Regions from separate parts of the Homo sapiens genome. Here regions 2 and 3 are each linked to region 1. The links come from fine-mapping of genetic effects on plasma protein levels. Region 1 holds a variant in brackets. A gene starts in each other region. All regions are shown on their forward strands.

Region 1 (8,177 bases):
TCTGTCGCCCAGGCTGAAGTGCAGTGGCCCAAACACAGCTCACTATACAGCCTTGACTTCCCAGGCTCAAGCAATCCTCCCACCTCAGTCTCCTGAGTAGCTGGGACTACATGTGTGGGCCCCCATGCCTGGCTGCTTTTGAAATGGTTTGTTGTAGAAATGGGATCCTGCTGTGTTACCCAGGCTGATCTGGACCTCCTGTCCCCAAGCAATCCTCCAGGCTCAGCTGGAAGTGTTGGGATTACAGGGATGAGCCACTGCACTTGGCTTAGACATGTTTTTAAGAAGCATAAATACGAATTTCAGTGTTGCCATGAAGTCAGGCAGGGGTTGGCAAACTATGGCCCACAATCCAGATGCAGTCCCCTCCTGTCATGGTGAATAAAGGTTTATTGGAGCCACAGTTCCTCCCCTGTGTTCACTTCTTGTCTGTGGCTACTTAGGGCTGCAGTGGCGAAGCTGAGTAACTGCTGAGTAGGTGCAACAAAGACCACAGGGTCCACGAAGCCCAAGATGCTTACTACCAGGTCCTTTGCAGAAAAATCTTGCTGAGCCCTGGGGAGGGGCCAGGTGGCAGCGGGGAGGCCAGTGGGGAGGCTGGTACAGTAATCCAGGTGAAAAACGATGAGAGCTCAGATTAAAACTATCATGACAAGTGGCTGGAATCAGGATATATTTTGGGGAAAGGACCAACAATACATAGATAAAATGGACAGTATTTAGAGTTTCAGATTTTCTTTCTACCAAAGGATCCCTTTCTAAAAAAAAAAAAGAGTACAAAAGATCAATTTTAAAAACTGACCAAAGAAACACCACCACAAGATTATTTGTGTGATTGAAGCTGGGGTTGAGCCTGGGTACCTTGTGTTTTCAACACCCCTAAAACCCCGGCTGTTCCAGAGGCACCTACAGAGCCCCTTGGGTTCAGACGAGCAGAACTTGAAACCATGGATCGGAAGGAATAGAAATCTGCATATCTTTCACACAAGCCGTAACATTCTAAGCCGCATATTTGCAGGACGCTGACGTGGGGCTACTTCACCCACAGCCAGCAAGCGTCTGCGCCAGTTCTGGGATTTGTGTCCACCTTGTTGTAAGAAGGCAGCTGCTTGCGTGAGGCATGGCGGTGAGGAAACAATGCCACCCGGATCTCACCATTGGCCGTGTGGACTGGCTGTACCATGGGCCAGACGCATGTCTTGGGCAGACACTTTTTAGATGCCAACTTGCCTGTAGACAAAGATGACGCAGAGGTGGCCTCGAGGACGGCCTGTGTGATGGGTTGAATTTGTCCCCCGAAATTCCTGTGTTGATGTCCTAAGCCCCAGTGCTTGAGAATGTGATCTTATTTACAGATATCATCTTATAGAAATAAGTTAAAATGAAAAATGAGGTCAGTAGGGGGGCCCCCAATCTAACTACTGGTGTCGTTATTATAAGAAAAGGAAATGTGGACAGAGACACACAGAGGGAAGACGAGGTGAAGAGACACCGGGAAGGCCACCTACCTGCCAGGAGAGAGGCCTGGAACAGAGCCTTCCCGCACCGCCCTGAAAAGGGACCTTCCCTGCCGACACCTTGATCTTGGACCTACAGCCTGCAGGACTGTGAGACAGTGAGATTCTGTTGCTGAAGCTGCCCAGTCTGTGGTACTTTAAGGAAGCCCAAGCAAACCAATGCAGCGTGGTAGCCCACAGCTGGTGAAAAGATGGAATGAGCGACGGAGCCCCAGGCTTCCTGTCTACACCTCCCAAAGTGCGCTACGGGATCCTTTGGTGGGTGCAGGTTTGCAAGATAATTTTAGGAGGTGCAGGGTGCATAATTTCAATGTACATTATTATGGATTTATCTTACTGTGAAAATGCTTCTAAGAATAGTTTACTTAAGGTTTACATGCTACTCAAGATATAGCTTTAAATGCTAACAAAAAGTGGACTCAAATGAAAACATTCTCTTGCTGTGGTCCAGGGAATCTTGATGTTTTTTCCAGAGAGACTCGCAGCTTTCAGCTACAGCTGCCCTCCCCTTCCTGTCCACTGCACATCCCCACAACACACACACATATACATACATACATGCACAGACATCCACACGCACACACATATACGTACATGCACACGCATACATGCACACACATATGCATGCACACACCTGCACACACACACACACACACACACACACACACTGTGCGTCATGCCCTTACTAAGGAGGCATGGAAGGGAATGTGTGTCTGTAAGGAAATGAAGATGGCTCAAGCCCCTGGTTCCCTGGGTGTTTGCACAGGCACCCTCCCTGCAGACCTTTCTTTGGTCTCTTTCTCTCTCTTAGTGAAAGAGAGAAGCAGAGCCCCAGTGGGTACCCGGCTGCTTAGGGCTCAACCCAAGGTCACAAGCTTCCTCGAGAGCCTGGTGAGATGGGGGCACCACAGGGCCTCCCAAACCAAGGGGGCAGCGTTCAGTGGAGCCTGATGCCCAGGAAAGTGATAGACAAGATGTCTCAGTTCATCAAAGACCCAACCACAATGCAGTGAGGAAGGGCAGCTGCCAAAGGTTTTATTCTCCAGGAGGAGGGGCTCTCGGGGGCTGTGAGCAGCAGGCACGAGGACTTTATTGCACGTGTGGTTAGGTGATGACGACCTACAGCTGCACTGGGAACTGGGACTCAGAGTGCCCCGACCTCCTGCTCTATCTCTCTCTGTCCCTCTCTCCCTCTCTGTCTCTCTGCCTCTCTCCCTCTCTGCCTCTCTCCCTCTCTGCCTCTCTCCTTCTCTGCCTGTCTCTTTCCTTCTCTGCCTCTTTCCCTCTCTGCCTCTCTTCCCCTCTGTCTCTCTCTCCCTCTGTCTCTCTCTCCCTCTCTGTCTCCTCTGTTTCTCTCCCTCTCTGCCTCCTCTGTCTCTCTCTCCTCATATCTCTCTCCCCTCTCCCCACCTCTCTTTCTCTCTCCCCTCCTCTCCATCTCTCTCCCTCCTCCTTTCCCTCCCTGACCCCCATTTATGCACCTGGGCCCCCCTCCTGGGCAGGCACACACACAATGCCAAGGCCACTGTCTGGGATGTGTGGGCAAGGCTGCAGGACTGTGGTCCTGGTGTGGCACCCCCACCTTCCAGCACAAGTGGGGTCG[G/A]GGGTCCCAGGCGTGACTGCGCTCTCCTGCGTGGGCGCCCTGCACTCAGGGAAGCAGAAGCTGCAGGTCTCCACTGGCTCGGGGGATGTGCTCACAGGGCTGCCGGCTTCCATCGCGTGATCTGCAGAGGCGAGAGTGGAGGGCGTGGGCCAGGCCTGGCCCTGCACTAGGGTAGGGGTGACGGTGTGGGCAGCCGCACTCTCCCCCGACCCAGGAGCTAAGGGCAATCACCAGCGTAGAACGCCCCCAGACAGGTGTCAGTGTCCGCCAGTTGCTGACCAGAACCTGTGCCGGGGCAGGGGTGGGCAGGCAATTCTTGGCTCTCACTTCTGTCCAGCACCGAGCCTGCCACGCCCCCCAAGGGGACACCTCCTCCTGGGCTTAGCCCTGAAGGCTCTGCATCTGGAGAATCCTGGGCCCAGGCAAACCTGAAGACCGGCACCCCACACCCACCCTTCCCGGGTGCCACTCTCCCAGTTATCTGTCTGCCAGGATGTCTTAACCTGATTTTATCAAGGTATAGCAAGTAACAGGGATGAGCCCTGGGCCTCTCCACCTAGAAGCAGGGGCAGTGACAGGACCGAGGGATGGCCCGAGGCTTGTCACCCAAGCAGCGAGAAGGGCGAGGACCCCAGTTTCATGCACTCACCCTGGGAAGACTTGGCCGGACTTTGACGGGGCCTTGAGCGGGGCTGGCAGGAGCAGGGATCCCCCCTCTTCTTGAGGAAGCAGGCCACCGCCACCAGGAAGCAGCAGAGGACGGCACACAGGCAGAGCCCCAGCGTGCTGTAGACCAGGGCCACCTGATCTGCACTCAGCTTCAGCCCCGGGAGAGCTGCAAGACAGCATGAGACCCCTCTCTGCAGTGCCTTCTTCTCTTCCCGTCATTAGGCTCAAGCAATCCACATCCCCCCATCCCCCTGCTGTGAGCCTGTCTGGCTCCTGGAGAGGCTGGGCTCCTTTTCTGACCCTGAGGCTGCTGGGATGCTCTCTGGATCCTGGAGGAAGTTGATCCACTCCCCCATCCTGGCAGCAACTTTCTAAGGCCTCAAAGCTGGAAACGTGAGCTAGGCCTTCTTGTTGTCTCCACTTGCTAGGGCTGTAATTGGGACAGCGCTGGAGATGGGCTGATGGGTGAATCGACAGACGAACAGACGATGCTCCAGGGAGCATGTCTCTGTGCATCCTGAACTGGGCCCTTCCTCCAAGGAGAAAGCTTCCTGAGTGAGCGTTTACAGTCGTCCCTTGGTATCCATGGGGGACTGGTTCCAGGATCCCCTACAGATACCAAAATCCGCGGATGTCCAAGTGCCTGATACAAGACGGCCTGGCATTTGCATATAACCTATGCACATCCTCCTATACAATTAGAGTCATCTCTAGATTACTTATAATACCAAATACAATATAGATGCCATGTAGAAGGGTGTTATACTGTATTGTTTAGGGATAACAATGAGAAAAAATGGCTGCAGAGGTTCAGTACAGATGCAACTATCCCCTATCTTTTCTGAGTATTTTCCAGCTGCTGTTGGTTGAATCCACAGACATGGGTCGCACGACACAGAGGGCCCACTGTGTTTGAGAGTAGGACAGGCGACGTTACACTGAGACCAGGACAGCAGGTGCCAACCAGGAGGGCTTTGGGCATCAGGGCACCTGGCCACCCTATGACTCAGGACTTGTGCCTCCAGGTTTGGATGCCAGAGACAGACTCAGCCCAGGTGAAAGCCCTCCCCTTGGAAGTTCTCCTTATCCCAAAAGCTCTTCCTTGTCCCTGGAGCTGGGCATCCTCTAGGCGCTGGGTGGAAAGACAGATGAGCCAGATTTAAGATGACACGTCAAGAAGAGCGAGTCCCACTTCGTGCCGGGCACTTCCCCTACAGCACCCCCTTCATCTTCCCGCTCTGATGGCAGACAACTACCCCCATTAAAAATACTGAGAATTTGTATACCATCAAATTTGCTGTATTAAAGTGTACAACCAGTGGCTTTTAGCACATCACAAGGTTGTGCAGCAATGGCAACTGTCTAATTGGAGACAATTTTTATCACCAAACAGAAACCCTGTCTCATCAGCAGTCACTCCCCATTCCCTCTTCCCAGCCCCTGGCAACTGTTCATCTCTTTTCTGTCTCTGTGGATTTGCCTATTCCAGACATTTCATATTAATGAAATCATACAACACGTGGTCTTTTATGCCTGGCTCCTTGCACTTGGCTTTGAGTTTTCAAGGTCCACCATGTCCTGCCGTGCTGTGTATTAGACCTTCGTTTCTCTTTAGGCGGAATGGACAGACCACATCTGTTTACGCATTCAACAGGGAATGGGCATTTGGGTTGCTTCCACTTTCTGGCTATTGTGAATGACGTTGCTGTGAACATTCACATCCACATGTTTGTGTGGATGGATGTTTTCCATTTTCTTGGGTGTATACCTAGGAGAAGAATGGCTGGGTCACATAATAGCTCTGTTTTGTTTTTTGAGGACCTGCTGGACTGCGTTGCACAGCATCTGCCGTTCACACTCCATTTTACAGATGACAAAACTGAGTGTCTAAGATATTGTTCTCGGTCTTAGACCTGCACCCGGGAGCCGGTCTCACCAATTCCCAGGCCGGTGCTCCAAGCCCGCGGGCCACACAGCGGCCCCAGGGCTGGCACTGCCCGTCTTCCTCACACACGCTTTTAGATTCAGGAATCTCATAAAGTGACAGAGCTGCCAGGACTCTTAGGGGTCATCAGTGTCACTCTGACATTTACAGGGGGGAGATGGGAACTTGGGGTGAGTTCGTGTCACTCCGCCAGTCAGTGGCTGTCCTTCTGTCCAGTGCCCAGAGCTCAGAGAGGCCTAACGGAGGAAAGCAAAGACCCCAGGACCTGCAAACTTGGTGCCACATATCCAAGGCTTACCTGCTCCTATTCACCTCTCAAATCAAATGCAAACACTGCCCTGGAGGCATGAGCAGGGGAGACGCTACCAGCCCTCAGAGCACAGACAGAATGCCAGGCTACAGGTTGTTACTAAGCGGAAATGAACGGCGTTGATTCAAGGAGGAAAACTAAACATTTGTGCATATTTCAAACATTTCATCATAAGATTCTGAAACCCAGCTTTCAGAGACCATGCAAGTGTTCAGAGACCACACCCAGAGCACAGTCACCTGACATCATGCCCTGTGGACCTTCTGGGCTGGACTGGGCCTCATCCTATCCAGGAGAGTGCCATGGGGGCGAGGTTGTGCCACTCCAGGCCTCTGCCTCAAGAAGGCCTGACAGCCTCGGTGTTTGCTCCCTTGGGCCTGAGCTACCACTCGAGAAGTCCAACTGGAGAGTCCCAGTGGAGAGGGGCAAGCCCTGAGATCAGCTGGAGGGGAAGCAAGGCCTGAATATCCCAGCATCAGAGTCAAGCCTCCAATGGCTCTATCCCCAGCACCATCTGCATGACAGACCCCAAGCAAGAGCAGCAGAAGACCCGCCTAGCTGAACCCTGCCTCCCCACAGAGCCACGCAGGGTCACAACATGAAGATGAGGATCTGGTGCCAAGTGTCCAGATCCAGTGACAAGTGTCCTTATACAAGAAGAGAAGGGAAGAGACACAGGCACGAGAGAGAAGCCATGTGAAGACAGAGGCAGAGATGGGAGTGATGCAGCCACAAGCCCAGGAGGCCTAGTTCTGACCTTATTCCCAGAAGGGGTCACGGGCACCCCCAGTGTCTGCAGGACACAGAGGCTGAGCAGTTCCATGGCTGATCACATGCCAGCACCTCTCCCTCCAGTTCTAATCTCATGCCAATGCACTGTCCTTCTGTCCCCCTCCCAGGTCTCTGGTTCCTATTATTGCCAGAAGTAGCCTCTCACAGGGCCCCTGCTGCTATCGCCACCATCCAGGGGCAACAGAGAGCTCTCCCCACAGCCCTGCTCTGACCCCCTTCTCCCATGGCTGCCCCTGCCCCCAGCAGGACATCAGCCTCCCAGCCTGGCACATAGGGCCCTCTGTCATCTGGCATCTGGTCCCTCCTAGTGCCATCTCCAGCTGCCCCTGAATCCTTGCTCTTCCCAACTCAGTCCTCTGCAACCCCCATGTTGGGGGACAGGGTCCTGCCCTTGGTGCTTTTCCTCGTCTTCTGCCGGACAGATGAGCAGCCCCACCCAGTAGGGCAGGCTGCCTGGGCCACCTGTTCCCCTCAGGGAGACACACACACTCCCTGCACCTGCCCCGGAGCCCGGGCAGGAAGCTCCTCGCGTCGGCCTGGAGTCGTCGCAGTAGAACCCCACGCCAGTCTCCTCTCCTGCTCAACATCTCAAGCCATTTTCAGTCCAGCTTGGGAGCCTGCCCTCCTCTCCCCACCAAGCGCCATGTGTGAGCAGCAGGGCTTTCTGTGCTCTCTTGGTGAGCATGTGGAGCGGTCAGTCTCTACCTTCAAAGCAGATCTGGGGTGGGGTCCCTCCTGCTTCTGTGGAGTGGCCACCACACTCCTGCAGGCTGGGAGCCCGAGAGGAAGGGATTTATCCCAGCCTCCAGCACAGAGCCCCTCACAGCCTCCCAACGGCACAGTTCTCTGCTCCTAGCAGCACCTGTACATGCTGTTGCCTCTGTCTGGAACCCTGTCTCCACCGTGTGGCTTCAACATAGTTGCTTTTTGAATGAGCAGTTCCAGCGCACAGAGCACATGCTCCCCCAAAAACATATTCTCCCAAATCACCCTCACAGCAGCTCTATGAAGGCGAACAACTCCAGCCTCACAGAACTAAGGCTCAGAGAGGGTCGGTAGCTTGCTCCAGGTCACACAGCTTGTGAGGGACATAACTAGGGGTCTGGCTCCACACTCCACACCCGCACCCCAGCCTGCCCTAAAGACTCCTCCTCGGGGAAGCCTTCCTTGTCCCCGTGTCACCTGCAGCTGGGTTACGTGGCTCCCGTGCACTGAGAGGAATTTGTCATCTGCGTGGCTTGTCCACTGCCTGGCCTTCCACGAGACAGTGAGCTCCATGGGTCTGGGACAGGAACTGCCTCATTCTCCCCACTCCCCATGCACAGCAAGCCTGCCACAGTT
Region 2 (8,170 bases), not on the chromosome of region 1:
TACACAGACAGAGTGCTCGGGCCACAATAAATTTAAAATTAAAATAATAAACAACAAAAAGTTAAGCCCCACAGATCTGGAAAATTTGTAATGCATTTATAAATGAAATATAGGTAAAAATAAATAATAACGGGAAAAGCAAATCAACAATAATGAAAAAAACAATATAGCAAAGCTGATGAGATGTAGCTAAAGTAGATCTTCAAGGGAAGTTTATAGCCTTAAATGCATATATTAGAAAATAAGAAATTTCTAAATTAATTAAGCATCCAATACATTAGAAAAAGAATGGCAAAGTATGCCGGGTGCAGTGGCTCACATCTGTAATCCCAGCACTTTGAGAGGCCAAGGTAGGTGGATCACTTGAGCTCAAGAGTTCGAGACAAGCCTGACCAACATGGTGAAACCACGTCTCTACTAACAATACAAAAATTAGCCAGGTGTGGTGGCGCACACCTGTAATCCCAGCTACTAAGGAGGCTGAGGCAGGAGAATCACTTGACCTCAGGAGGAGGAGGTTGCAGTGAGCCAAGATCATGCCACTGCACTCCAGCCTGGGCAACAGAGCAAGACAGCCTAAAAAAAATAATAATAATAACAGTGAAACAGCTACACACAAGCAAATCAAGTTCTACCAGGCTTTCAAGGAACAGATTATCCCTATTGTATATAATCTGTATATAAAAAAATAAAAAATAGCACTTAAAAAACAAGTGGTCAAAGCAAGGAAAATAGAATCGTGTCACAGAAACCAAGGGAAGTAATAATTCTCATGTAGGTGGAGAGCTGCCAGATCCCACATATCTCTGTTAAACTTTGCTTCCTGGATGAGGCACTCCCTACCCCTTAAATCCCCCTATTAGGGGTATAGACACCTATATTGCACCCCAACTCTCTCCTTCATAGCAATAATGACCATTACTAACTAATTTTAATTTTGTTTTGTTTTTTGGGTTTTGTGAGATGAGGTCTTGCTCTATCTCCCAGGCTTGAGTGCACTGGCATGATCATGGCTCACTGCAACCTCGACCCCCTGGGCTCAAGTGATCCTCCCACCTCAGCCTTCCGAGTGGCTGGGACCACAGGCACGTGCCACCACACCCAGTTAATTTATTTTTATTATGTGTAGAGACGGGGTGTCACTCTGTTGCCCAGGCTGGTCTTAAACTCCTAGGCTCAAGCAATCCTTCCGCCTCGGCCTCCCAACGTGACTGGGATTCCAGGTGTGAGCCGCCTCACCTGGCCAATTTTACATTTGTCTTTGAGATTATATGATCGATGTCTGACTCTCACACTGGTGTGTCAACTCCGTCAGGGCAGAAACCACATATTTGTCTGTTTGTTTTTCATCTTTGTGCCCCATTACTTGGCTGGTTCCTAACACAAAATGAATGTGCAAAAAACGCTTGTCAAATGAATGAGGAGGTCTAAGGGGCCTTGAGCCCTCTGACGTTTCCATTTTATAATTGTGGACAGAGCCGCTACAGCACAAAGCTGAGCTGGACCATCCAATGTTTAGCCAGTGCCTTACGTGCTAGGAGACACTGGGAGCTGTGCTGGGCTTCTGAGGAGTGGGCAGAGGCTGGAAATACCCATAGTTGGTCAGTCTCCTGTGTCACCCAGACTGGGGAGGTGCAGAAATGAAAATTACAGAGCTGCGAGGACCCAGAACCTCATTAATGAGCTTAACTCACTGTCCTGACCAGGTGGCCTCTCAAAGCCTTGCTGGGAAGGAGGCTTTAAGGTGGTGGGGGCAGCAGTGCTGGTGGTGGTCATCGAAGAAAGTGGGAGTCGGGGAGGAAGCAATGGGGAGCAGGGGACAAAGAGGGCCAGACAAACTCAGAGCTTCAGGTGATGAGACTCAGGAAGCCTAAGTCAGGAACAGTGATTGCGGACATCTTTGTCCCATAACAGAACTTCCTCCTAAGGAAAGGTCTTGCAGAGACTGGTCCTGCTGAGCGCTTTAACAGGTTATTGATTCATAAAAATTGGAGAAAAAAGACAAAGTCTGCCACACCTAACAGCCTTCTGTTTAGAGCTGGTTTAGAGGAAACTTTAAGCAAGTCTTGTGTCCAACAATTTGGGCCTGAGGCAGGGTACAGGTAAGGGAACAGACAGGAGACACGGAGGCAAGAACAAGACTTTAGCTGAAAGAGAAATCAGAGCCAGAGGCAGCCACAAGAACACCCAACCTACTGGAACTCATGCAGGTGGACAGCCTGCCCAGGACTTGCCCTGAGTGGGAAGCAAAGAGCATCTTATCTAGATTTTAAGGAGCAGGGTGCCCCTGGCTGACATCTAGGCTACAGTCACTGGGCCAGGTGGAGGGTTGGTCAGGCCCTCTCAAAAGTCATGAGAGGCCAGGCACAGTGGCTCACGCTTGTAATCCCAACACTTTGGGAGGCCGAGGAGGGCAGATCACTTGAGGCCAGGAGTTTGAGACCAGCCTGGCCAACATAGTGAAACCCCGTCTCTACTAAAAATACAAAAAATTAGCCGGGTATGGTGGCCGGTGCCTATAATCCCAGCTACTTGGGAGGCTGATGTATAAGAATCGCTTGAACCTGGGAGGCAAAGGTTGCAGTGAGCTGAGATCATGCCACTGCACTCCAGCCTGGGCAACAGTGAGAGACCCTTTCTCAAAAAAAAAAAAAAAAAAAAGAACCAAAAAAAGTCATGAGAGTCCTCAGAGTTCTCAAGAAGGGCTGCTGTGGGCCTGTTTCTGGAAAGGAAAGAAAAGCAGGGAGCTGTTGAGAAAATACCATATGTTTTTATGCCCCAGCCAGGCATGGGGGAGAGGCTGACCCCAAAAGAGAAAGTGGTTGTGTGAGATTTCAAGGAAGATGTCAGCGGGCTGCATCCCAGGGCCTCTAGACAAAAGGAAGGGCCCAGCCAGGCATGGTGGCTCGTGCCTGTAATCCCAGCACTTTGGGAGGCCGAGGCAGGCAGATCACCTGAGGCTAGGTGTTCTGGTCCAGCCTGGCCAACATGACAAAACCCCATCTCTACTAAAAATACAAAAAATAAGCTGGGCGCGGTGGCTCTCCCCTGTAATCCCAGCCAAGGTGGGCGGATCAACTTGAGGCCAGCCTGACCAACGTGGCAAAACTCCATCTCTACTAAAAATACAAAAATTAGCTGAGCGTGGTGGCACGCACCTGTCATCCCAGTTACTCAGGAGGCTGAGGCGTGAGAATGGCTTGAGCCTGGGAGACAGAGGTTGCAGTGAGCTGAGATTGCATCATTGCACTCTAGCCTGGGTGACAGAGTGAAATGGAGGGAGGAAAAAAAAAAAAAAGGAAGGTCCCGTCCAGGGAGCCAGCCTAGGATGGGGAAGGCTCACCAGAAGTGGATGCAAAGAGTGCTGGAGATGAGCTCATTCTATTTGCCTAGGAAAGAAAAACGTCCAGAAACCTGGCCTTCCTCCTCTTGGCCGAGGCCCTCCAGGAAAGCCAGGCAGACCCTGCTCCTGCTCTGACCCCCTGGAGAAGTGATATGTAGAAAAGAGGAGATGGGCTTTGGCCCAGAGGACAGCAGCGTTAGGCTAGTGAGCAGTTCCCAGTCGGTTCAAGGTTGCTAGGCTCAGCGAACTGCAAGTCCCTGTTCGACAAGTTTCTTCCTAAAGGTCCCCAGTTCCTCATGATTCTTCTGAGGGTCTCATCCACCCTCCCAGGGCCTGCAGTCAGCTAGCCACCCCACTGCCCCATGCCTGCAGTGAACACATTTACCACAACCTGGAAATGGCTGGTGACAGAAAAGTCCTCACGGCCACAACACTCTCTGCGGTGGGAATTCAGGTGCCTTGCCTGATGGTGACAAAGCTGGTTTTGCATAAACAGCTCTCTGAATCACACCCAAATGTGGCTTCTGACTTGAGTGGACCCCCATGAAGAGCTGCAGAGGGGGCTGGGAAAAGACAAGAGAATGGAGAAAATGAGGAGAAAGGAAACTACAGAGTGAGATAGAGAACAGATCTGACAGGTGTGACCACAGCAGTGTGACATTTATGAACAGTGTGGAAACAACGGCAAAGCCCCTAAATTAAAAACTTCCTGGGGAAATAAGCCACTCCACATATCGGTTGCTGAGGAAAGAGTGGAGGAGGCTGTTGACCCGTGTGTGTCCCCATGACTCAAAGAGGGAAAAGTCTAGCTGTTTCCAATATCCCGAAATCAGTCTTGCTGGGAGAACTGGGAAAATAAAAAAGAGATGACCCCCGTAGGAAGCTACCTTTAATCCCAAGTGCCCAAGGCTAGGAGAGAAGATGCTCCAGGCGATCCAGGACACCAGTGACTGACACAGCCAGAGGTGGGAAAGGGGAGGATAAAGATGGCACAAAAGTGAGGAGTGAGCAAGGGTCTGAGAGGGAAGGCCATGTGGGCAGTAGGTGGCACCCACATCAGAGACTGACATGAGGATTAAAGGAGAGCATAGGTGATCGGTCAGAGTGTGACAGAAGAGAGGCAGCTCTACACCCCTTGCTTGCAATTCTGAGCATTCTGTAGCAAACTCGTTTGGCCATCAAACCAGACCTCAATTGAGACAAGGCTATTTAAGCTTCCTCCCAGTTGGTGTAAATATTCAATAGTTTTGCTGCAGAAATGTTGCGTTTGATTATGAGACTACCCCAACTCCCCAAGGGTGTTTTGTGGTGCTGGTTTCTGTATAAACCTGAAAAATTCTGAATTCCAAAACTTATCTGACCCCCAAAGTTTCAGATAAGAGCTTGTGGACCTGTGCTCAATTCTGGTTCTCCTTCCTTCTTTCAACTGTTGTCTGTGAAAGGAGGGATGCAGGTATGGGAGACAGGAGTCCTGCGAATTCGTCTGTAAACTGTGGACGGGGGGGTGGGTGGGGGGGGGTAACGTGGGCACCTTTGTGCACAAGTGCATGAATAGGAGGGGTGAGCAACTGTGTGTCCATCACCTTTTTGTCAAAGAAGCAGGAGTCAGTGGGCTACGTGCTTCATGAGCAGGAGAGGCGGAAACTAAGGAAGGCTCATGTGTTGGAGGAAGCATGTTTGAAGAGCAGCAGGTCTCACAGAGTTTGCTCTTTAATACTCTCCCCAGCACACGGAAGGGGAAGGGGGTGGAGGTTGCTGCTATGAGAGAGAAAAAAAAAACAGCCACAATAGAGATTCTGCCTTCAAAGGTTGGCTTGCCACCTGAAGCAGCCACTGCCCAGGGGGTGCAAAGAAGAGACAGCAGCGCCCAGCTTGGAGGTGCTAACTCCAGAGGCCAGCATCAGCAACTGGGCACAGAAAGGAGCCGCCTGGGCAGGGACCATGGCACGGCCACATCCCTGGTGGCTGTGCGTTCTGGGGACCCTGGTGGGGCTCTCAGCTACTCCAGCCCCCAAGAGCTGCCCAGAGAGGCACTACTGGGCTCAGGGAAAGCTGTGCTGCCAGATGTGTGAGCCAGGTAAGAGGGGGCCTTGGTAAGGGCCAGGTGAGTGGCGAAAGAGAGAGGACTGGGGTTAATACAGTAAATAGGCGCAGGGTGAGACTGAGCTCAAGCAAGGAGGGAAATCCTGCAGCTGTGGGGAGGCACCACCTTGAAGAGGGCAGAGAACCAGCCCTTCTCAGGCCTTGATCCCTTACCCTCTCCTCCCAGGAACATTCCTCGTGAAGGACTGTGACCAGCATAGAAAGGCTGCTCAGTGTGATCCTTGCATACCGGGGGTCTCCTTCTCTCCTGACCACCACACCCGGCCCCACTGTGAGAGCTGTCGGCACTGTAACTCTGGTGAGGTGGGCAAGGGTGTGTAGGTGGGGACGATGGACAAGCATCTGGGGGAGCAAGGCTGGTGACGGGTTTGGGGGTGCAAGGAGGATGACGGGGCCAAAGCTTTGGCCTTCTTCAAGGCTCACAGCAAGTGGAGCCAATGCTGGGAAATGCGGCACCCTAGGTGGGGCATGAATTAACGTGGGCAGACATCTAGTATTCCAGGAAAGGGATAAATAGAATTTGAGGGATTGGTGAGAACGGGTCTATGGATAGGATCAAGACAATAAAATGAGAGAAGTGGCTCTATGACCCCAGATTTCGGGCAAGCAACCCCCAACCAATAAACTGACTGTGTTCCCAGAGTGCACATGTGCAGGTTGGCCATTGGGAATTTGGAATACATCTTTCTAAGGAAATAACAAAGCAACCCAATAGGTAACAACCTTTTTTTGCACAAAAGCCAATTTGAGAAAATGAGTATGTATGTAGCCTGTGTTTTTATTTTATAGTTCCAAAAAAAAAGGTTTTTTTTAAACTAAGAAGTATAATATCTGCAGTTGTGCTTATGAATGCTGTTATTATTTCTCCATCTTCGCTACAATTTCAGAAACTACGGCCAGTATACACTAGAATAGCAGGCTTTAAAGTGGCCCCTTTGAACAAATGTTCTCTAGCAAGACACTTTTTAGAACCAGGTAACTGTAACTATTAAACTACCTACTTGCAAAACGTGTTTGGTGTCACTGGGTCTCTTGGTACTGGGTTTTGTTTTGTTTAGTTTAGAGACAAGGTCTAGCTCTGTCACCCAGGCTGGAGTGCAGTGGTGCAATCATAGCTCCCCACAGCCTTGAACTCCTGGGCTCAAGCAATCTTCTAGTCTCAGCCTCTGAAAGTGCCAGGATTACAGGTGTGAGCTGTAGTGCCTGGTCCCGTAAAAACAAAAACAAAAACCAACACCAGATGTGGTGGCTCATGCCTATAATCCCAGCACTTGGGAGGCCAAGGCAGAAGGGTATTTGCATATTTTGTAGAGACTTGAGCCCAGGAGCTTGAGACCAGCTGGGCAACATAGTGAGACCTTGTCTCTAAAAAAATTGGCTGGTCATGGTAGTGCACCTGCAGTCCCAGCTACTTGGGAGGCTGAGATGGGAAGATCACTTGAGCCCAAGAGGTCCCCAAGAGGTCCAGGCTGCTCACATCACTGCACTCCAGCCTGGGTAACAGAGCAAAACCCTTTTTCACACACACACACACACACACACAAAAAGCCAGAGCAGTGGCTCACACTTGTAATCCCAGCACTTTAGGAGGCCAAGGCAGGCGGATCCCTTGAGCCCAGGAGTTTAAGAACACCCTGGGCAACATGGCAAAACCCTGTCTCTACTAAAAATACAAAAAGTTAGCCAGGCGTGGTGGCACGAACCTGTAGTCCCAGCTACTCAGAAGGCTGAAGTGAGAAGATCACTTGAGTCCAGGAAGTGGAGGCTGCAGTGAGCCGTGACTGTACCACTGCACTCCAGCTTGGGAGACAGAGTGAGCAGAGTGAGACCCTGTTTCCAAAAAAAAAAAGAAAACAAAAGCTTTTCCATTGCAAATCAACCAAAAAGGAACGTCTTTAATACACAAGAAATATTCTTCAGTCTACTTAACTTAAAAATGTAACTGTAATAGATGCTTTTCTCTTGACAGCGGCCCCGGCAGGGTTGGAACTTTTCCTAGTCAAAACCCCCCTACTCACTCTGCAGACCCTTCCTGAAGGTCTTCGCCCCATACTGAGCCCATCTTCAGTCCCTTCACTTGTTCCAAACTAGCCCAATCCATGACCCTTCTCTGGGAGCTCAGCCAATAGATCCCAAAGTACCACAGCAGCACCTGGCTGCAGAAGGACCCCCGGGAAATGCAGTCAGGGGTGAGAAGATGGGTGGGCTGAATGAGCTCGGCCCTCTCTGGGCCTTAGTGCTGGCATCTATGAGATGAGGACATGCCTGAAGTCAGCCTGGAATTTTGAGCCCAGGTTATACCTGGTAAATAGAACTCCCAGGTCTCCGGATACTCACCACTAAAACAATAGCACCTCATTGTTTTTGTTTTGTTTTGTTTTGTTTTTTAATTATACTTTAAGTTCTAGGGTACATGTACACAATGTGCAGGTTTGTTACATAGGTATACATGTGCCATGTTGGTGTGCTGCACCCATTAACTCATCATTTACATTAGGTATATCTCCTAATGCTATCCCTCCTCCCTCCCCACACCCCACGACAGGCCCCAGTGTGTGATGTTCCCCTTCCTGTGTCCAAGTGTTCTCATTGTTCAATTCCCACCTACGAGTGAGAACACATTGTTTTTAACCCTCCCCAGCAGCTTCTTTAACCCCTCCATTTCCCTTTTGGCGGAGACCCTTGTCATCACTCCTCTCTACCACCAGTGCTCTCCCCTCCTGC
Region 3 (8,156 bases), not on the chromosome of region 1:
AATTAAACATAGATGAAATTTTTTGAATAAAATGTCAACATGTATGCCTCTATAAATATACAGACTTAAACATTATATGCATGGATGCTTCCTGTAACGATCAGTTGTTTGTAACTTCACATCATAGGCAGTTTAGGTACTGTGTAGATCAGTGCTGTCTATTCTGTGAGCTGTAAAGAATGAATTTTGTGTGTGAGTCTTTGTCTTTTGCTGGGCTAGGTGCCAGAGCTCCGGCATTGGAAGGTGGTTGACTTGCAGATTGGTGAGAAGAATTTACTGACAACAGTATAGGTTTGAAAAGGAAAGTTTTACTAGATAGAAAGAAAGCTGCAAAAGAATGCAGCAGGGCACCTCAGCAAGGGAGGAATTGTGGTGGATTTTCCCTTAGGCGTGTTTATGAACCTTAAAGCGGGAGTTTAATGGTAATTTGGACCCTATTAGCCACATAGGTCATGATAAATGGTTAAATTTGTAGGCATTTTGGTGCCTTGATGTCAGCAAGTGTTGCACAATGAGTTTCAACATACATACATTCTGCAGATGTATGGAAATTCTAGTTACTTATAAATTTTTGAGAAAGAAGCCTGGAACCAGATGCCCGCTTTAGATAACAGGGAAGTCTAATTACTTCTAAATTCCTCAGACGAGGAGTTTTTTCCTCTGGATGGCTGGCTTGACGGTCACCAGGTGACCTCCACTCTCTTCATCTTTGATTCTACTTCTCATCTCCTTGAGTGCACTGAAATTTCTTACTAGAGATTCATTTCTTTGGACCTTGAACACTTTTGGTTTTCAGAGCTCTCAGAGAAAAACTGATCAAAAGTATGATAAATTATTAAATGGATAAAAGGAATTTTGTTTGAGGGGCATAATTAGTGTTTGTGAAAGGAATCAGGGTTTATGGGGACTGTTCCTCTGTCCTTCTTCGAGAGGACAGCGCATGTTATTTAATAGGACTGGGAAGTGAGAAGGCCAGAAAACCAAAGAAGAGGAACGTTTTTTTTCTCCTAGCTTTTATTGCCACCTTCACCCGACCTCTGATCTGGTGAAAGAAGTTGGGAATATTTACAGGAAATCTGGATTCCTGAGATTTCTAAGGAACACTAAAAATCTGACACTGGACTGCAGAGGCAAATATTTTAATTTTTCACTCTGCTATCGAAAGAGGTGGCGGACAGATTCAAACAAGAATATAATGTAGGACTCTTTACATTCTGTGACTATTAAAGGAACAAAAGGCAGGGTGCTTCAGTACTAGACTTGCATGGGGCCAGAAAGTTGGGGGGTTTGAATTTAAGCTGCCTACTTCATAATTTGTCTAAGGCTGGGCCACTTTCCCAATCTTTTTTGCTATTATCCTCAGGGCCTTATGAAATAACTACAATGCAACATGACTATTAATGTTATAGTTAATCTGATTATATGATTTTTGCTGATGTATTTCTCAAAGTGTGTGACTTCATGCAATGATTCTCAGCCGTGGCTGCACGTTAGAATCACCTGGGGAGCTTTTAAGCGATCTGACGCCCAGACCACACACCAGGCTAATCATATCAGAATCTCTGGGGGTGGAAGTCAGACATCACCATTTTCTAAAAAAGGCTTTCTAGATAATTTCCATGTGTAGCTACAGTTGTAAGCATTGGTTTAATGTATTATCATCTGTCTCTCTCAAGTAGAATGGTTTTAACATAGTGATTCTCTAATGTTTTGGTCTCAGAACTCCTTGCATTAGTAACAGTAATTGAGGACCACAAATAGCTTTCATTTATGTGGACCATGTCTATCAATATTTATTGTATTGAAAATTAGAACAGGCATTTTACAAATACTTAATTATGGATTTATTTTAAAAGAATAAAGTCATTGCATCTAAAGACACATGTTTTATGAAAAAATACATTTTCCAAAGTAAAAAGAGTTTAGTGAGAAGATTGGCATTTAAAAAAATCTCTTTAATTTCTGACTTTTTAGATGACAACTGGATTCCCATATTTGCTTATGCATTCCACCTGTTGTGATATATTATTTTGGCTGAAGTACATGAAGAAAATTTGACCCCACACGGACATGTAGTAGGAAAAAGGAAGAGTATTTTAATAGCCTCTTCAGATAACTGTGGATAATCTCCTTCATTATTAAATCAAAACATAACAAATGATAGTGTCATAAAAGGTACAACTTAAAATCTGCTTCTAAATACATGTTTTTATTCCATTACATTAAAATCCACTGGGTGTCTCTTATACTTTGAGTGGAACTTTTCTTTGTGACTTTGTAACATGATGAATTGAACATTTGGAAAATATTGCTTCACTGAGTTATGCAGATATTCCAAATGTTGAGCATTTCATTATATATAATAAATAATCACATTTGTTAAAATCACCAATTTTGTCATAAAAGTTGTTGCATATCAGGAAACTATCAAGCTTATGGTAGCAGATACAAGTTATCCAAAATTCCAATTTTTACTGCAAAGATCCAGTTTTATCACTGGCAACAAACAGTGTCAGTTATTTTCCTTCAAGGGATAGGCGCACTTTATTCATCTTCAAATGTCTGCCAAATATCCAAGTCTGAATAATCATAATTTATCAGTCATTGTTCTTTCAATTAAATTGGAATTTCATGAAAAAAGTAGCAAGTTCACTATGCTTCTCTCTCTCTCTCTTTTTCTTTTTTTGAGACTGTCTCTCTCTGTCACACAGGCTGGAGTGCAGTGGTGTGATCTCTGCTCACTGCAAACTCTGTTTCCCAGGTTCAAGTGATTCTCCTTCCTCAGTCTCTGGAGTAGCTGTGACTACAGGCACCTGCCACCATTCCCAGCTAATTTTTGTATTTTTAGTAGAGATGGGGGTTTTATCCTGTTGGCCAGGCTGGTCTTGAACTCCTAACCTCAAGTGATCCACCTGCTTTGTCCTCCCAAAATGTTGGGATTACAGATGTGAGCCACTGCGGCCCACTATACTTCTGAAACAACGGTACAAATGCTTTTCTTTGAGACAATTGCCCTTTGGTGTGCAGCAGAAGTGTTTGATTTCTACGTCTTATTTTCCCATGTGAGTATAAAGAGCTGCATACTCTCAATTTGTGCTTCCAGTTAAGATGGAACTGGATTTGTCATCCCACCTAAAATATATTAAAAATGACATTCACAATGGATTGGATAAAGAAAACGTCACACACACACACACACACACACACACACACACGCACACACACACACACACCCTGGAATACTACCAGCAATTAAAAATAACAAAATTTTGTCTTTTGTAACAACATGGATGGAACTGGAGGCCATTATCTTTAGTGAAACAGCTCAACTAGCACATGTTCTCACTTATAAGTGGAAGCTAAATAATGTGTACACAATGACATGAAGAGCTGAATAATAGACATTGGAGACTTGGAAGGGTGGGAGGGTAGGAGGGATGAGAAATTACCTGATGGGTAAATGTATACTATGTTTTCAGGTGATGCTTACACTAAAAGCCCAGACTTGTCCACTATGCAGTATATCCATGTACCAAAACTGCTCCTGTACTCTCTAAGTGTATAAAAATTTTTAAAATGATGCTTAAATATTGGAAAAGAGGTATCACAGGAAAGTGGTGAGAAAAGGGAAAATGAAATGAGATGAGCCTGATGTTTTCTCCAGCTTACTGCTTTGAGAGTTTCCAGGATGCAGTGCAGGTAGGAGGAGTCCACACAGAGCTGGTGGTCTCCATGAGATGAAAACGCAGACGTGAGGAGCTCTCTCTCCTCCTGTACTCTGTCCTGCTAGATTTAAAATCTAGCTTCATGGAGAGACAGCTTCAGAAGGCAGTAAAACAACAATTTTATTACTTCATCAATGACATTCTTAAGTGAAACTGGCTCTTTTTCTTTTCTTTTATCGTCCTCTTCTTTTTTTTTTTCTTTATGCGTGGCAGTGAAAAATACTAAGATGGCTGGGTATGGTGGCTTACGTCTGCAATCCCAGCACTTTGGGAGGCCGAGGCAGGTAGATCACCTGAGGTCAGGAGTTCGAGACCAGTCTGACCAACATGGTGAAACCCTGTCTCTACTAAAAATACAAAAATTAGCAGGGTATGGTGGTGCATGCCTGTAATCCCATCTCCTCAGGAGGCTGAGATAGGAGAATCGCTTGAACCTGGGAGGCAGAGGTTGTAGTGAGCCGAGATGGCACCATGGCACTCTAGCCTGGGAAATAAGAGTGAAACTCCTTCCAAAAAGAAAGAAAGAAAGAAAAACACAATGACTACAAGTATAGATTTTCCTCCTCAATAGTACAGTTTTGTGTCCTGTATTGACAGTTGCTAAGGTGCCAGCATTTTTACCCATCATTGCTTTTGCAACATCAGTGCAAAGTCTATACAGTAGAAAAAATGAATCTTGTTTTGGTATTATTATAAAAGTTGATTTGACTTTGGAGACAGCCAAGAGGGTCTTGGGGAATCCCCAGTATCCATGGACCACACTTTTGAAAACTATTGTTTTAATAGAACCTTCTGGTCATTACTACTTTGATCTAATGGCGCCACTTTAAAGGTGGGACTGGGTGTAGGAACATCCTGCCATGGCAGCTTCATGGAGAAGATCTGTTTTGGCAATTGGGTCCTTCATTTCCTTCACATCACAGTATGGAATCTATACTATAATGGAGGTAAAAATTTCTCCACTTGAGAACAGTGTTATCACTGTATATACAACACATTTTTTCCATGATGAAAAACAGGGTCTGAAACTTTAATTAAAATGGAAAAGTCATTAGTTATCTTCCATGGGAAGAGTTTGAAGAAAGGAAAAGTTGAAGTAGGGCAAAAATAGCAGATATAAGGTATTTCTAAACGTTTCCCAAATGAAGGAAGAGAGAAAAGAATGAGCGAAGGAAAGGAAAAGGGTATTTAGTGTGTAAGACACTAGAAAAGATATGCATAAGGAATGAAGTGATACATACATAGTGGTGTTGGATTTGTAGATTCTTGGAAAGTTGGCAGAAAAGCTTACATGTAAAAAAAAAACCAATGTATTGAAATCAGTCTCACTAGCTATGTGGAATGTTTTAGATTTGTACCAGATACAATACGTTTGTGGTGGATACAGGAGATGCGCTGCCCAGATCTGCCCCCAGGGAAGGACCCTGCTCCAGCTGTTGGAGGCCGGCTGGCCCACAGCCTCTAGCAGTCAAGCTCTTTTGGCTGGAAAGCCGCTTGCAGGAAATCACTCCATGGAGGTGCAGAGATAAGGCCCCAGACATTTTGGCCCAGTATGGGACAACTTTGACCGTCTTTTTCAGCTTCAGGACTCCCATGGAGTTGGGTGAGGTTGTTGGGCCCGCTTTGCTGCTAACTTCTCCCTCTGTTCTCTCCTGTTCCCCTTCTTCCTCCCACAGGGGTTTGTCCCAAGGGCACTCCCTAATACACATCCTGCATGTTAAACTCTTGTCTCAGAGTCTGCTTCCTGTAGATACCAAACTGTAAGAACATCTTATTGACTTAAATATAACCAAAATTGGAGAAACTTAGGAAACAAAATCATCATTACGTTATGTGCTGACATTTTAGCTTATTTCTATATTTCTTGTTTTGAATTGCTCATACTTAGCATGATAGTACCTCTCACATTTTGTTTCATTTAGGTTTGCTATTTCCACGTTCTCTTTCTTATAGGAACCATATTGTGAAAAGACATAAAGGTAATAGGGTAAAAAAAAGCAAATAGGCTCTTTATTACCCAGCCACTCAGGAAATGCACTATTTCAAGGTTGACCCAGGCAGCAAGAGAGGAGCTGTATTGGGGAATGTGACAGTGGTTTAGTTCTGAAACTGGAGCCAGTAGAAAGTTCTGAAGGGGGTCCGATGATCAGAACTGTCTGTGGGTTTAATAAAGGTGTATTTAATTTTATTTAAGCCTGGAGATTTAAATTGTCACTCAAAACTCTCAGACATGAATAGGGTTAGCAAATCTGTACACCAGGAAAGGAGTTATTTACATCCTGTCTTCTCCTACAGCTCCAGAGGAGGGCAGAACAGTGTATTTCCAGGCAAGCCCTCTCTTTAAAAACTCATAGCCAAGGCTGGGAAGACAGAGTGAGTGGGTGGGCCTTCTGGCAGCTTCCTTACCTTCAAATCTTTGCTCTCTGTGAAATGGTTCTGCTTCAGTATCCTTGTTCTGATTTTTCTGGGAACTAGATGTTACTGGGAGATGACTCAGAGCAGGCCAAGCCCTGATCCTCACTGTGGAAGCAAAAGAGGCTGGTGAAAGTCACTGTCCTGACAACTTGGACCAGAAACCTACAGACAAAACTGAAATGTTTTCCTGCCCTAGGATTATCTGGATAACAATGACCTTTGATGTTACAAAGTAAATAGAATTGTGTTTGGCTTTTCCTTTTGGGGCCATGCCTTGGAGAAGATGACTCCTTCAGAGCCGCTGTGAATATTGTAGATCTCATTATTTCAGATAATTACTTTGACCATCCTTTTCAATTTGAGAGTATGATGTGAGGCAAGGCAACTATTTGTGAGAAAAAAGAGAAAAGGCAAAGATCCACTGTCATACTTTTGCTTGTGGGTTCCAGTCCAGGCTTTCTATGGGGGGTGGGGGGGTGTCTCAGTCTCCCCGTCTGTAAAATGGGATTAGTGGATTAAATCCGGGAAGGTTGGACAAGCACCTAGGACGGTGCCTGGTGCCGTGTTCAGCAGACGTCGATTCCCTGTCCACCCCTTCTTTAGGAGCTGTGGGAAACACTTCATAACTCCCCAGGGTCTGGTGAACCCTTCCTCCCTTTTCTGTTCCCTGTTTTGGCATTGGAGATCATAAAAAGGCTCTTCCATGTCTCTTGCTTCCTTCCTTTCATCTTCTCCAAGAGAAGGAAGTGGCCGCCTTTGTTAGCTTGGGTTCAGAAGCTTGTGTCTGTCACCCAGGGCCGCCCAGCCCCGGGGTTTGCGAAGGTCCGGGGTAGGAGGGCTGCAGCCTGCGCGACGCGGCGGGAGGCTACCCGGGGGCGATGGGAAGGCGGGCGCAGTCGACCCAAGGGTGGAGAAGAGGGAAGGCGAAGGACGCGCGTTCCCGGGCTCGTGACCGCCAGCGGCCCGGGGAACCCGCTCCCAGACAGACTCGGAGAGATGGCAGGCGGAAGACACCGGCGCGTCGTGGGCACCCTCCACCTGCTGCTGCTGGTGGCCGCCCTGCCCTGGGCATCCAGGGGGGTCAGTCCGAGTGCCTCAGCCTGGCCAGAGGAGAAGGTGAGGGGCTGTTTCTGCGTAGTTGTACTTGAGCGGCTCTGGTCCGATGCGAGGACCCCTGGCCGGGTCAGCCCTACCTAGGCAGAGCGGGAGGCGGGGCAGGGCCACGGTCCCCAGCCCAGGCACCGGCGCCCCACCCGGCGCCCGGAGGAGTCGGGGCTCTGCATACTCGCCGGGGTGCCTCGGCCAGTCCGGGGCTGTTCTGGAGACGCCAGGGGGGCTGGGTGATGTCACTGGCCTCTCCTGGGCTGCGGTCTGATGGGGGTGCTGATAGGCACAGGAAATGTGTCTCGCCGGCGGCTGCTGAGCCGGGAGGCGAGGGCGCATCGCGGCGCCACCCCCCACTCGGGACCCTGGAGGGCAACGGGGCCGGCGCTCCGGGGCCGCTAGGGTGCGGGGTGCGCCTGGGGGTGTGCCCACAGCCCCCCCGCTGCTTCATCCAAGGATGCTGCTGGGGCGCTGAAGTGTCCCTACAGTCTCAGGACGGATGTGTGTTGTTTGTTTTAGATTTTTAAAAGGAGCAACTCGGCAGGAAGGACCTTTACTGGAGACCTGCTTACTTCAAAAGCCTTTTTCCTCCACTTAAAAGAGGGTACCTGCTATTTTCAGAGAAAATGGATCTAGTTGTAGGTAGAAATCGCATATAAGGAACTTAGGATAAAAGTGATTTGCAAGTTCCCTCTGTAAGAAGTGTATGGGTTCGGCCGGGCGGGGTGGCTCACGCCTGTAATCCCAGCACTTTGGGAGGCCGAGGCGGGTGGATCACGAGGTCAGGAGATCGAGACCATCAGGGCTAACATGGTGAAACCCTGTCTCTACTAAAAAATACAAAAAATCAGCCGGGCGTGGTGGCACGCACCTGTAATCCCAGCTACTCGGGAGGCTGAGGCAGGAGAATGG

Alleles and levels. Alleles are on the strand shown, and positions count from the first base shown. The strength of an association depends on the size of the effect and on how common the allele is.
As copies of A replace G in region 1, the plasma level of the protein whose gene starts at base 5,144 in region 2 goes up (weak association).
For the plasma level of the protein whose gene starts at base 7,035 in region 3, allele G in region 1 goes with a lower level than allele A (weak association).

The links. A credible set is the group of variants that fine-mapping cannot tell apart. PIP is the posterior inclusion probability: the model's chance that the variant is causal. The UK Biobank Pharma Proteomics Project read protein levels with antibody pairs (Olink). The fine-mapping took linkage between variants from a reference panel, not from the people measured, so its PIPs are less certain.
Region 2: it holds the start of CD27, and the variant in region 1 is the best candidate, but not a certain one, in a credible set for the plasma level of the CD27 protein (UK Biobank, PIP 0.78).
Region 3: QPCT starts here. The variant in region 1 is the best candidate, but not a certain one, in a credible set for the plasma level of the QPCT protein (UK Biobank, PIP 0.78).

The regions. Positions count from the first base shown.
Region 1 is chr17:16,936,557-16,944,733 of GRCh38, forward strand. It overlaps TNFRSF13B (TNF receptor superfamily member 13B), which reads right to left. Exons shown (of 5, transcript NM_012452.3): 4 at 3,770-3,955; 5 at 2,525-3,241. The coding sequence ends at 2,991. Among named protein-coding and RNA genes, the nearest start is that of TNFRSF13B, 31 kb to the right of the region's middle. RefSeq lists enhancers at 624-1,124, 1,922-2,762, 6,886-7,386, 7,387-7,887, 7,949-8,177 and silencers at 2,548-2,597, 2,608-2,657. The variant G/A (reference allele first, on the strand shown) is at 3,121.
Region 2 is chr12:6,439,812-6,447,981 of GRCh38, forward strand. CD27 (CD27 molecule) reads left to right here and starts at 5,144. Exons shown (of 6, transcript NM_001242.5): 1 at 5,144-5,420; 2 at 5,613-5,744. The coding sequence starts at 5,285. It overlaps CD27-AS1 (CD27 antisense RNA 1), which reads right to left. Exons shown (of 6, transcript NR_015382.2): 4 at 7,150-7,276; 5 at 3,735-3,906. RefSeq lists silencers at 2,926-3,065, 3,166-3,245 and enhancers at 4,236-4,305, 4,326-4,375, 5,280-5,781, 5,326-5,385, 5,416-5,595 and 1 more.
Region 3 is chr2:37,337,596-37,345,751 of GRCh38, forward strand. It overlaps QPCT (glutaminyl-peptide cyclotransferase), which reads left to right and starts at 7,035. Exons shown (of 7, transcript NM_012413.4): 1 at 7,035-7,256. The coding sequence starts at 7,137. LOC124907754 (a long non-coding RNA gene) reads right to left here and starts at 7,460. Exons shown (of 2, transcript XR_007086284.1): 1 at 6,132-7,460; 2 at 1,821-3,132. RefSeq lists a silencer at 7,406-7,465.